2 separate regions of the Homo sapiens genome follow, and region 2 is linked to region 1. The links come from fine-mapping of genetic effects on gene expression. Tissue or cell type: whole blood. Region 1 holds a variant in brackets; the other region holds the start of a gene. All regions are shown on one strand. Distances are from middle to middle.

Region 1 (2,500 bases):
CTTGGCTCACTGCAACCTCCACCTCCCAGGCTCAAGCGATCCACCCACCTCACCCTCATGAGTAGCTGGGATTACAGGCATATGCCGCCATGCCCAGCTAATTTTTGTATTTTTAGTAAAGACAGGTTCTCGCCATGTTGGCCAGGCTGGTCTCCAACTCCTGACCTCAAGTGATCCACCCACCTCAGTCTCCCAAAGTGTTGGGGTTACAGGCGTGAGCCACGGCATCAGCCCTACATACCAATTACATACTGCTAAAGTATTCATGCTACAAACTAAAATGTTAGGATATGTAGCTATGCTATGATTTTTTTGTGGCCCCCGCCCAGTCAGAGTCTTGCTCTGTCGCCCAGGCTGGAGTGCAATGGCGCGATCTTGGCTCACTGCAACTTCTGCCTCCTGGGTTCAAGCGATTCTCCTGTCTCAGTCTCCCAAAAAGCTGGGATTACAGGCACACGCCAAGACGCCCGGCTAATTTTTGTATTTTTAGTAGAGACAGAGTTTCAACATGTTGGCCAGGCTGGTCTCAAATTCCTGACCTAATGATCCGCCCGCCTTGGCCTCCCAAAGTGCTGGGATTACACGCGTGAGTCACCATGCCCGGCCTGATTGTATCTTAATACATATGTGAACATGTAGTCAGCCAAAAATGCAGCATGTTACTTACATGGGAAAATATATAGACGTATTATATTTTTACATACAAAAAGTCAGTTATATAATGAAAAAAGCCCCATTTGTAACAAAGAGGATGCAATATCAATAATTAACAAAAACTTCAAAACACTCTTATGCAACTTTTTATTTAAATATATAGAAGATTAACCATGGTAGGAAAATTCAATATCATAAAAATGTAAAAATCCTCTCTAAATTAATTTTCTAATTTGTCTCAATCACATTAAAGATACCAACAAATACCAGAGGCTGTACCTAGAAAAACAGGGCAAACATGAGATTTAGAAAATCAGATCCAATATAAGAGAGATGAAAACATAGTTACCAGGATAAGAAAGGAATGACCAAAAATTACAGCTGACAAAATAATAGCTGTACCCAGAAAACTTCCAGTCCACACTACAAAGTAAGATGCTGTGATCGAAGAGGTACTTCTCCAGAAAAGAAGTAAAAATGCTATCATATATGACAGGTTTGATTATGTGAAATTTTGTATTGAGAAGTCCACTACTTTACAGAGTTCTTGTAGAAAATGAAAATAAAGCTAGATACAAAGGAAAAATCATAAAGCAATAATTAACTCCTGGAAAAAGTTATATAAGAA[C/T]GAAAATGTGATTACAGCATATTTCTTGGCCCAGCAATGAACAATATTTACATAATCATAAAGAGAACACAGAATAGAGTCCTCAACCAAAAATTATAATAAAGAGACAAGCATGTGACATGTTTGAACTATAAAAGGTATTTAGCTAACACAAATAGCCAAAAAAACAAGTACTATAAAAGGTATCCTAAACAAAATTAAAAGACTTGGAGATTACAAACATGTATAACAAAGGAATATACCTAACATACATTGTGGGAATAAAACGTATAAAACAATTAAAAATAAAAAAAGAAAACTAGTCAAAGGACATGAAAAGGCAATCCACAGAAGTATAAATATTAAAGCTGACCTATAAACACATGAGGTATTGCTCAATCTCAGGTTCTAATTAAGGAAATGAAATATAACAGGACAGCATTATTTTGCCCATTGATTTGGCAGAAAAATTAAAAGATTGATAACATCCAGTGTTGGCAAAGGATACAAGAAAACAGGTGTACAGATACATTGGAAACACCTTTTGAGAAGTATTTTAATAATCTATCAAAGTTGTAAATATTCATACCCTTTGAACTAGCAGTTCACTAACTAGTATCCCTCTTATTGATATACAGACACATTTTGTTTTACTGCACTTCCCTTTATTGCTCCTTGCAGATATGACCTTTTTTTTTTTTTTTTTTTTTTTTTTTTTTTACAAATGGAAGGTTTCTGACAAACTTAAGTGGAGCAAGTACAAGTCTATCAGTGCAATTTTTCCAATAGCATATGCTTACTTCCTATGTGTCATGTTTTGGTAATTTTCACAAAATTTAAACTTTATTACTATTATACCTGTTACGGTGATTTGTGATCAATGACCTTTGATGTAACTATTGTACAGTTGTCCCTCAGAATACAAGGGGGATTAGTTACAGGACCCCTGCATATACCAAAATCTGAACATATTCAAGTTCTGAAATCAGCCCTGCAGAACCCATATATGCAAAATGTCAGCCCTACACATATGCAGGTTTTGCATCCTGTGAATACTATATTTTCCATCCATGTTTGGCTGAAAAAAAATTGCATATAAGTGGACCCACACAATTCAAACCTGTGATGTCCAAGGGTCAACTGTAATTGTTTTGGGGCACCACACACTGGGCCTATATAAGATGGTGAACTTAAGTGATAAATTTGTATATGTTCTGACTGCTCCACCGAATAGCTATT
Region 2 (3,020 bases), 78 kb after region 1:
TTAAAAAAAATCCAAAACACTTTTGGTCCCAAGCATTCTGGAGAAGGGATACAAAATCTTTATTTGCAGTAGCCCAACAACTCACTGTACAAACTTATTATGAAACCAAAAGCAATCATTTCCCTTATTCCCACTTCCAGTTTCCTTCTCCATACTCAGCCGCTCCTACCCTTTCATTCAGAGAAATGGAGTTTCTCCTAACAGATTAGTAATTACTGGAAAACAAACTGGGTAAATTCAACCGACACAGCAAGCTTAGGCAGATAAAACCATGAGGAAACATTCAATGTGGTAGCAGAAACCCCAGCAAGAATAGCTAACGTGTTCTCCCAAAAGCTATCTCTTATTGCTTGGAAATACTCCTCTTTAAAGGATTAAGAATCTCTGGCTGCTTAAGAAGAAAGGGTAATGGACAACGTTTTTCGTTTCTCTGCAAAGTCACGTTATGTGTAAAGCCAACAAAAAAATGTTTCTTAAAGGATCCAAGACGAACAACAAAACACCCCAAAATTACTCTCCCAGATCAACATTAAAAGTTTAGCACTGACATTTTCAGAAGAGTAAGCAACAATGAGCCCTGCCTCTCTTCACACGCTTCCAACCTTCCCTACGCACGCACTCCCAGCTCCAGACACCTTCGCCTTTACTGCAGCGATAAAGGACAGCACACCCACCGTCGCGGGAGGAGGAGGAAGAGCCTCTTTTTCTGCAGAAGAGAAACAGTTCACATCTTGTTCCTGTTGCCTGCTTCTGAAACCTAAAAACAGAAGCAGCAGTTAACTACTACCACATAAATCCAGGGGAAACAAATGCTTTTTCTAGGCTGTTTAAGTGTCTAGAAAATTTTAAAAAGGAATAAGGAGGCGGGAGCGAGGGAATTATAAGACACAAATGGAAGCAAATATCACCAGCAAGACTCGTTCTAGGTGTCGTCTTAAAGAGGAAGATTTTTCTGGCTCAGAAGTTTGCTGCCACTAGCAGGGGGCAGGCGGGACCAAAAGGTAGGAAGGGGGTGGAGAGACAGCTGCTGCCCCCCACCCAGAAGCCAGGCAGAGATAACACCCACCGGCTACACAGATCGGGCGACCAGAGCGCGCCCTCGAGCCCGCAGGGGCGGCTCCTACCCGGCGGGTCAAGGTCTGCGAAGCCCCGGGACGGGCACGGCTCTGAACGACCTCCAGGCTGGGCCCTCGGGGGCCCTCCAGTGTGGGCTCAGCTCCCACTCACATCCCTCGGCAGCGAGGACCAGGCCTCTCCCTGCGCCGCAGCAGCCCTCAGCCCCGACGCGCGCCGCAAGCCCGGGCCGAGGGGCCCGACCGGCCGAGAAGCCGAAGTGGCGACGCGAACACCCAAGCGAGCCGGGCGCCGGCCCAGCCTGTCAGCGCCGAGGGAGGCCGTTAGCGGCGTCCGCTGCTGCCCCCTTCTGCTCCTCTTCCTCTCTCCTTCCTGCAGCCCCACACCACTCCCACTTCGGGCAGCCGGGAAGCCCGTCACAGTTGTCTCCACCCTCTCCGGGGCCACACCGTCTTCTCAACGCCGCGGGCGACACTGGCTTCGCCGCCCTGCTAGCTTCGAACTCAGCCTCCCGGTTGGCCTGCAGTCTCCCCGAATGGCAGGAGACCGGGCCGGATAGAGGCTGGGGGAGAGCCGGACGCGCGTCCTGCAGTGCGCGTGCGCCGCTCGGTGCTGGTCGCGGGACCGGCAGGCGCGGGCCACGCAGGGCAGCTGCCTCTCGGGAAGCCGGCGAGCGCGCGTGGAGATTCCTGGGACGGCCCCTGGGCGTGAGCGCGCAAGGAAGTTAAGGCGGCGGCGCCTCGCGAAACGCTGGTGCCCGGCTGGAGCTAGGCGCCAGCGCTGGGCCCGGCCCTCACTAGATGGGCGGGTGTGTGTGTGGCCGCCGCCCTCCAGGGAAGCGGCCGGGAGTGACTCACCCTGGCTGGCTCCCCAGCGCGCAGCCTGCACTGGAGGAGGCCGGGCTGCCTCCGCGCGGAGACTCCCCTCCCGCACACTTCTCCGCTTTCGGCTTTTCCTTCCACCTCCCGGGTACAGCAGACCCGTCCTTCCCCAGTCCAGGCTGCTAGGCCGAGGGGAAGTGGCGCCGGGGGCCGGGGACAACGCGCTCACACACGCTGTTTCGTGGCAATGCGCCCTCGAGAGCCTGACTCCCATCAGCCACCTTGGCTGGAAAGGGGTGAGGGTGGGATGAAGCGCCCAGCCGCCTGCGGGTTGGCAACAAGGCCTAGCGAATGTTTCTCCTAGAGGAGAAACAACTTTACCGGCGTGGCCTGGTGTAGCCCGGGAGAGGGTGGAGACAACGGCTGTGACGGGCTTCCCGGCTGCCAAAGGGCCTCATTCATTCATTCAAATATTTACTGAGTGTCTACTAGGTGCCGGGCTGTAGGTCCCCAGAGATACCAGGTGAACACGACCCCACACACTCCTTGCCCTACTGGATTGTATTCTGATGGAAGCGACAAAACAACAAACAACGCTTTAAATGCATAATGTGCGGGGTGTGTAATTGCCACTAAGAAAATGCATAGTTTTCTGCTGCCATATACATAATAACAAAGAAAAGGAGTAGAAAGTGAGGAGGGGGTGTGCTATTTTACGGTGGCCAGGAACGATTTCCTAGAATAAGTGACATTTGAGCAGAGATCTGAAGGATGAGAATGAACCAGTCCCATGACTATCTGGGAAAAGAATTTCAGGCAGAGGGACTCCTGAAGGCAAAGACCTTGAGAAGGGAAAGTGTTTGGCAAGTTCAAGGATCAGGAAAGAGGTCACTGTGGCTGGAGGACACGGAAGGAGGGGGCAGTGGTAAGAGGTGAGGCCAAAGAAGTAGCCTGGCACCAGATCGTGTAGGGATTTTTTTCAAGTATTAGCCCTCTTTCTGTCAACCTAAATGAAGTGACGCATTCATAGCTCCTGTTTCCCCATACACAACTGATGCTGCTCTTCAGGTCTGTCTTGCACTTAATGGTTTCTTTAAATAAACCTCACCAAAGCAACTCCTGCAT

The links. PIP is the estimated chance that this variant, and not a neighbour inherited with it, causes the effect.
Region 2: it holds the start of JAK2, and the variant in region 1 is fine-mapped to the expression of JAK2 in whole blood (TOPMed, PIP 0.92).

What each region holds. Positions count from the first base shown.
Region 1 is chr9:5,061,982-5,064,481 of GRCh38, reverse strand. All of the region lies in intron 8 of JAK2 (Janus kinase 2), which reads right to left. It also overlaps a transcript of INSL6 not described here. Among named protein-coding and RNA genes, the nearest start is that of JAK2, 78 kb to the right of the region's middle. The variant C/T (reference allele first, on the strand shown) is at 1,283.
Region 2 is chr9:4,983,677-4,986,696 of GRCh38, reverse strand. JAK2 (Janus kinase 2) reads right to left here and starts at 1,425. Exons shown (of 25, transcript NM_004972.4): 1 at 1,067-1,425; 2 at 675-757. RefSeq lists enhancers at 623-672, 1,473-1,612, 1,541-2,374 and silencers at 1,003-1,332, 1,723-1,802, 1,843-1,892.